Linked DNA regions of Homo sapiens. The protein of the gene in region 1 purifies or fractionates together with the protein of each later gene. This does not show direct contact. Each region holds a gene or a part of one and is shown on either strand. Other genes may lie near its edges.

Region 1 (3,824 bases):
GAGCTTGCAGTGAGTGGAGATCGTGGACTGCACTCCAGCCTGGGTGACAGAGCGAGACTCTGTCTCAAAAAAAAAAACAAAAAGAACAACAACAACAACGAATATATAATCCCATTTTGTTTTAAACAAAATATACAACCTATACATAAAAAAATGTCTAGAAGAACGTACCAAATTTTTAATTGTAGTTTTGGTTAGTGGGATTACAAGGGATCTTAAATTACTTTGTTAAGCTTTTCTATATATTTGCAACTCCTTTTTTTTTTTTTGAGATAGAGTCTCACTTTTGCCGAGGCTGAAGTGCAGTGGTGTATACATGACTCACTATAGCCTTAACCTCCCAGGCTCAGGTGATCCTTCCTTCTTGGCCTCCTGAGTAGCTGGGACCGTAGTCATGTACCACCTTGTCCAGCTAATTTTTTTAAATTATTTGTAGAGACAGGATCTCCCTATGTTGCCCAGGCTGGTCTCCAACTCCTGGACTCAAGCAACTCTCCCGCCTCAAGAAATTCTTATATGTATGCTCATTATCAGAAAATACCACACGGTAATTTTTCTGGCTTACATCAGCAATTCTCAACCAACAATGATTTTGCTTCCCAGGGCACATCTGGCAATGTATGGAGACATTTTTGGTTGTCACAACTGGGGAGTTTTACTGGTATCTAGGAGAGGCCAGGGATACTGTGAAAACATCCTAAAGGGTACAGGACTACTACCCCCCAACAGAGAATTTTCTGGCCTAAAATTTCAGTAGTACCAAGATTGGGAAATCCTGGCTTACAGAAAACAAACCTTGCTCTGTTCTTCTCATGCCCCCACCCCTTCTTATTTGCACCTAGCCTTAATAAATTCACCATTAGGTGTTTCTGAGGGAACATAATGTTCTGGAAATCACCAGTATTGGAATTATAGATCTAAATCAAAGACAGAGGTTTAGAAGAGAAACCAAGAAATAGCCAAGTAGTGAGTATGGGGGAACATTACCAAGACACTTAAAAGGCTACATGGGATTTAGTTTTAGCAGGGAAAGGTTCAAAGTTTTTCCTCCAGCAAATGATTATTTCCCTGTTTTCCCAAGATAGAGTGCTGTTGTCTCTCTCAAAGGCTATAAATTAATTCACAGCATTTGAAAGAACATCCATTCACGGCTTTTTAAAGAATATCTTTATTTACCAAATGTTCTCCTGTGGGTGGTTGCCAAGGCTACTGCCATAATGAAGGTGGGGCTGCTGTTATTCATGTTTCCTTGTATTATGAGGGGGGCGGAAAGAACACCCATTATATTTCATTGAAATCAGCTTATTGTGTGGATCCAGGATTTCACGCCCAGCTGAATAAATCAGAATGTTTTCCTTAGGCATTTGTTAACTTAAAAAGACATCCTTTATAATTTTTACTTGCTCTTGACCAAAGCATAACTAAATGCAAATTTTTTGTTTTTGTTTTTCCACCAATAACCAAGAAGATGTTTTTATATTTAATGGAAAAGTGGCTCACTATACATGTAGTTCACTGTAAGTTATGTGTTGCTTGTGCCTTATTGACTGTTCTTTAATTGTTTTTGTTTGCTTGTTTTTAGAGAAGCTTCCGATAATCTTGCAGTGCAAAATCTGAAGGGGTCATTTTCTAATGCTTCAGGTATAATTACTAATTATAATCTGAACATAATGATGCTTATATGTTTGCTCTAAGCACTTATTACTGTAGCTAACTGCTTGTGACACTGGAAATCTATTTTTAAAATAACATATACGCAATAAATTGTACCACATGGGATGCATCCCTATGCTTTGAAATCCACATCCTAGAAAAGGATAAAACAACTGGAATTTAGCTGACTCTTCTACTCTATCTCTTATTTTTACAAGTGATTTAATCTTCCTTTTACTCAATTTATTGTACAAGTGAAATGTGTATAATTTTCCTGGAGATTTTCCTCATACAGAGGATTGAAGGAAGTATTTTGAAATCCCTTGAAGAAGGACACTATACACATTTTGTTTTCGTGAAAGCCAAGAGGGCACAGTGGTGATAGTTATGCCTTTGCTTTCATCACCTCTAGCAACCTTACTTCTTTTTTAAAGAAGTGTTCCAATTAAGGCCATGAGAAGACATATTTGGCTTTTAACAGAATTGAGTCTTTCCCATTCTCTTCTGTTAGCACTAACTTTGTGTTGCCATCAGATTTCCAATTCTTGCAGGAATTTAAAGAAGTATGCAGGTTTGGTGATATTCAGCTTGATTTTCTTAGGCCCCTGAGGTTTTGATGACTCCTGTTGCCTCCCTGCCCCTTCCACCACCCCCCAACCCCTGCCTGAGGAGAGAAGCATCAAAACTGCTGGGTGTTGGGGTTCTGGGCTCCTCACCTATCCGGTGCAGATGGTTGTAGGGATAGAAAACACAGCCCAGTCGTGATCTAGCCCTTAGAATCACGACAGGATGTCTACTAATAAACTCTGCCATCTCTCTGTAGTATGTTGTAGAAAGTGGGACCAGATAAGGCCATAAATTCTGAAACTCTCTTGGTCTCAGGTTTGTTTGAAATCCATGGAGCAACAGTGGTTCCCATTGTGAGTGTGCTAGCCCCGGAGAAGCTGTCAGCCAGCACTAGGAGGCGCTATGAAACTCAGGTACACTGGGTCAGGGTTTCTTTGGCTTTCTAATATGAGTTACAGAAGAGAAAAACAACAACAGGAAAGGAAAATAAGATAAACATGGAATTTCTTGGAAATATTTTTTCCAAGAAAAAAATTTTTCTTCCAACTTGCCTAACTGGGTGGCTTCTGGCTCCAGGATTCCCATCTGTCCTTCAGAGAGGGGCCATTGTGCACTGTGGGCACCTCAAGGCAGCTGTTGTCAGAGTGACTGCATCTAAATGAAAACTATCTAATCTGGCTCTAAAGGTAGTTGAGGTTTGTTTGTGCTCTAAATAGCAAAGTAGAAGAGGCCGATGACAAGACTTAAGGCAGGCTTCTCATTCCATACATGGTTTCGGCATTTGCTATATGCCTACTGGTGTGCTAAGGGCTGTGTAAAATGTAGAAAACATTAACATGGCCCCAGTCCTCAAAAGAGTTTATAACTTAGAAGCATATGCATTATATAGAGAATAATAAAAGCAAATAAATATAGGCCAGGTGCGGTGGCTTATGCCTGTAATCCCAGCACTTTGGGAGGCCGAGGAGGGCGGATCACTTGAGGTCAGGAGTTCGAGACCACCCTGGCCAACATGGTGAAACCCTGTCTCTACTAAAAATACAAAAATTAGCCAAGCGTGGTGGCAAACGCCTGTAATCCCAGCCACTCGGGAGGCTGAGACAGGAGAATTGCTTGAACTGGGGAGGCAGAGATTGCAGTGAGCCAAGATCATGGCACTACACTACAGCCTGGGCAACAGAGCAAGACTTTGTCTCAAAATAAAATAACTACAGTAGAACACTGAGTTAAATTTATAGAATATGAATGTTAGAGTATGCTGTGGACATATGCAAAAGAGTGAGTGTTAAAAGAGAGCAGTCAATTTTAGAAATGTAATCAGACTGAAATACAAAAATCAGGTACTTTATTTTTGTAAGCTCTTCTAGCTGTTTCTCAGGATTTGGGTGGAAACCTATTTTTCCCGTCTTCCTACTGCCTTCATCACCTACCAAGTTTCAGTTCTCACACCATGTCCTCATTGCTGCCACCTCTCCCTTTTTCCCAATTTAGCTTCATACTATCATCTCTCTGTCTCTGTGTGCACTGTTTCACTGCGCTACGCCTTTATAAGGAATCATTTCAAAATTATGAAGAGATAATTGACAAGGATTATTAAACAAATG
Region 2 (3,824 bases), on another chromosome or scaffold:
TTCTTTTCTTCTACTTACTTTGTGTTGGGAGAAAGCCCCCTAAAATCTAGCCATAAACTGGCCCCAAGACTGGCCATAAACAAAATCTCTGCAGCACTGCGACATGTCCATAATGGTCCTAACGCCCAAGCTGGAAGGTTGTGGGTTTACAGGAATGAGGGCAAGGAACACCTGGCCCGCCCAGGGCAGAAAACTGCTTAAAGGCATTCTTAAGCCACAAACAAAAGCATGAGTGATCTGTGTCTTAAGGACGTGTTCCTGCTGCAATTAATTCGGCCCATCCCTTCATTTCCCATAAGGGATACTTTTAGTTAATTTAGTATCTATAGAAACAATGCTAATGACTGGTTTGCTGTTAATAAATATGTGGGTAAATCTCTGTTCGGGGCTCTCAGCTCTGAAGGCTGTGAGACCCCTGATTTCCCACTTCACACCCCTATATTTGTGTGTGTGTGTCTTTAATTCCTCTAGCGCCTCTGGGTTAGGGTCTCCCCAACAGAGCTGGTCTCAGCAACTTTGAGTTTACCTTTCCTTTCTTTTATCTTCTAAAACAAAAGCCTAGATAACTGTTTTAGATCTTTATTCTTTTCTAATATAAGTAATTAAAGCTATAAATTTTCCCTTAAGGCTTTAATATATGAATTATTTGGAAGGGCTTATTTAATACTGCAAACTCTTCCCTCCCAAGATATGACACTGATTTCAAAATTACTTCCAGTGTGATCAGAGAACATATTTGTATTCCAACCCTTAGAAATTTATTTAGAGTTGTATTAATATTATAGCTCACCTTATTGTCTATCTTGGTGAATGTCATGCACACTTGAAAATAATGTGTATTTTGCCTTTTCTGGGTGCAGTGTTCTAGGTATCAAACAAGTCAAGGTCTTCATTGATCTAATTGTTTCTCCAATTGTTCAGAGCTTGTTCAAACTTCCAACTATGATTATAGATTTGTCTATTTCTCTCTTGAATTCAATTTCTGCTTTATATTTTGAACTCTATTATTAGGCACATACACAGTGATGACTGTTGTTTTCCTTCTAACAAATTGACCCTTTATCATTACAAAATGTCCCTGTTTAAATCTGAAAATACTATGTCTTTAAATCTACTTTATCTAATATTAATAGACACTGTCTCCTTAAGGTATTGTCTGCATAGCATATCTTTTTATATCCATTTATTTTCAACCAAGTATATCTCTTGTAGACAGGATTATCGTCGAGTCTTGCTTTTTAATTCATCCTAACAATCTCTGCCTTTTAGCTGGAATATTTACTTGATTTACATTTAATTACTGATATAAATGAATTCAGTTGTATCAATAACTGAATAATTGAATACCTACATTTTAGGTATTTGTTTTCTATTTGTTCTTTCTGGTTTTTGTTTTTTTCTTTTGAGTTTTCTTTTAGGTTAATGTTTTCTAGAATTCCATTTTAATATATCTTTGGCTTTTACAATAGTGTATTTTGTATTTTACTTACTTATTTCTAGAGATAGTTTCACTATGTTGCCCAGGCTGGTCTTGAACTACTGACCTCAAGTGACTCTCCCACCTCAGCCTCCCGAACAGCTGTGACTACAAGCACAGACCACTGCAACTGGCTTATTTAATGGTTGTTCTAGAATTTACAATATACATCCTTAACCTTTTAATTTTACTACTGCACATAAAATGTAAGAATCGTTAAGAATCATATAGATCTATTTACCCCACACCTCCTGGCCTTTGTGATTAAGTTGTCAAGTGTACTAAGCCTGCTTTAAACAGTATTCTGTTTTCTTAGCTTCTATATTTAACTACTTGGCATCCATTAATCACAGAGCCAACTGTATTAACTATATATTTTATTATTAATATTATTAGTAGTAACTAAATATTTTCTTATTTTCTGTATTCTTGAGGCTCTGACATTTGTGGAGAGACTGCCCCTCCGTCAGGTGGGGAGGAGTCAGCAAAGGGCTTGCTTGGTAGCATGCCTTTCTTATGCAGAGCAGCCAATCTGGAGCCCATAAACTCATACACCAAGCCAAAATTCTCCCTGCTGTAAGTCAAGGGCCAGGTATTAGACAAGCAGGGCAGTCTTTATGCCCCAAGGCCCGCCAAAAGCATTCAAACTAGCCAACTGCAAGCCGTTTACGCTGCTCTGCCTTGCTTTTCCTGCAGAAACTCCAACAAAAGCTCTGACCTACTTTTTCCCCTAGTTCCTTGTGACTCCTGACTAAAACTGGTGCTTCCCCATGTGGCCCTGCATGGCACATCAAGCCCCCTTCTCTCAGGCAATATAAGTAGTAAAAGTTTTCTTTCAAGGGCATTGGACTGTGTCATCACTCAGTCACCTCTATAGATTACAATCCCACAGGCACAAATGAGACAAATAGTTAAATATATTTTTAAAGAAACTAAGAAGGGCAAAAATAGTCTTTTACATTTACCTATATATTTTCCATGTCAGGTCATCACATCTCTTCAGCTTAAAGAACTTCCTTCACCTCTCTCTTTTTTTTTTTTGAGACAAGGTCTGGTTCTATCACCCAGGTTGGAGTGCAGCGGTGCAATCTTGGCTCACTGCAGCCTCCGCCTCCTGGGCTCAAACCATCCCCCTACCTCAGCCGCCCGAGAAGCTGGGACTACAGGGTGCACCACCACGCCCAGCTAATTTTTGTATTTTTTGTAGAGATGAGGTTTTGCCATGTTGCCCCAGCTGGTCTTGAATTTGTGAGTTCACGCAACGTGCCCACCGTGTTCCATTCCATGCACCGTATTTATGAGAATGCTGACCAAGTGTAGAACACTTAGCACAAAGTGACCTGGATGGGGTGGGGCGTGGTGGCTCACGCCTGTAATCCCAGCACTTTGGGAGGCCAAGGCGGGTGGATCACAAGGTCAGGAGATCAAGACCATTCTGGCCAACATGGTGAAACCCTGTCTCTACCAAAAATACAAAAATTAGCTGGGCATGGTGGTGTGTGCCTGTAATCCCAGCTACTCTGGAGGCTGAGACAGGAGAATTGCTTGAACCAGGGAGTCGGAGGTTGCAGTGAGCCAAGATCGTGCCACTGCACTCCAGCCTGGCGACAGAGTGAGACTCCATCCCCCAAAAAAAGAGAATATAGATTTTTTGTTTTAGCAGGCAGTCAGAATCTGAACTCAAAACTATAAGCTCTGTCTCCCCAGATGGTAAGCAACTGAAATCTGTTCAGATTTTTCCCCTATTAGGCTACCTGGAGTCCACCCTGTGTTTCAGTAGTTCAGGGACAAACCAGAGATTTGGGAAGAATTTATATAGACTTAGGGGATCTCCCTTTGTGCCTGCCGCCTCCTTTCTCTAACCCTCACCACTATCACCACCAGTTTCCATCTACTATGGTTGTCTACAACTCTCGCCTCCAGTTCTAAAGCCAATAAGACCATAAATTTTCTGCTAGAACCTTAGCTGCCTGGCTTGAAGCTGTCTTCAGCATGTACTTAGGTCAAAAAAAAAGGTGTAAAACAGAAAACATACCCTTTCTTATAAGTGTCGACTCACCTTCAAATTTTCAATTTTGGCCTGCTTTTGGCTGCTTCTCATTGTCTTTAGGTAGTTATTTTTCATACTTGTTCAGGGTTTATGGCATTTACGTTGAAAGGCTTGTCTAGGAGGACATAATTCTCTAGTATCAAAATGAATCCTCTCTACAGGCTCTTTTGCACTTTGCTTTTTCTCATCCTATCCTGGAGATCTTCCATATCAAAATATTCAGATCTCATTCTGCATAAAATTGCATTGCACGCATTTGTACTGATTTATTTAACCAGTCCCCATTTTGGTCATTTC

Evidence for each region.
Region 2: the proteins of EIF2AK4 (region 1) and EIF2S1 purify together in Homo sapiens (affinity purification with western blotting; one study listed by BioGRID). This does not show direct contact.

Annotation. Positions count from the first base shown.
Region 1 is NC_000015.10:40,027,824-40,031,647, forward strand, and holds part of EIF2AK4 (eIF-2-alpha kinase GCN2), read left to right. Parts: intron 1-1,582; coding exon 1,583-1,641; intron 1,642-2,535; coding exon 2,536-2,633; intron 2,634-3,824. UniProt on the Homo sapiens protein: Metabolic-stress sensing protein kinase that phosphorylates the alpha subunit of eukaryotic translation initiation factor 2 (EIF2S1/eIF-2-alpha) in response to low amino acid availability.
Region 2 is NC_000014.9:67,366,530-67,370,353, reverse strand, and holds part of EIF2S1 (eukaryotic translation initiation factor 2 subunit 1), read right to left. Parts: intron 1-3,824. UniProt on the Homo sapiens protein: Member of the eIF2 complex that functions in the early steps of protein synthesis by forming a ternary complex with GTP and initiator tRNA. This complex binds to a 40S ribosomal subunit, followed by mRNA binding to form a 43S pre-initiation complex (43S PIC).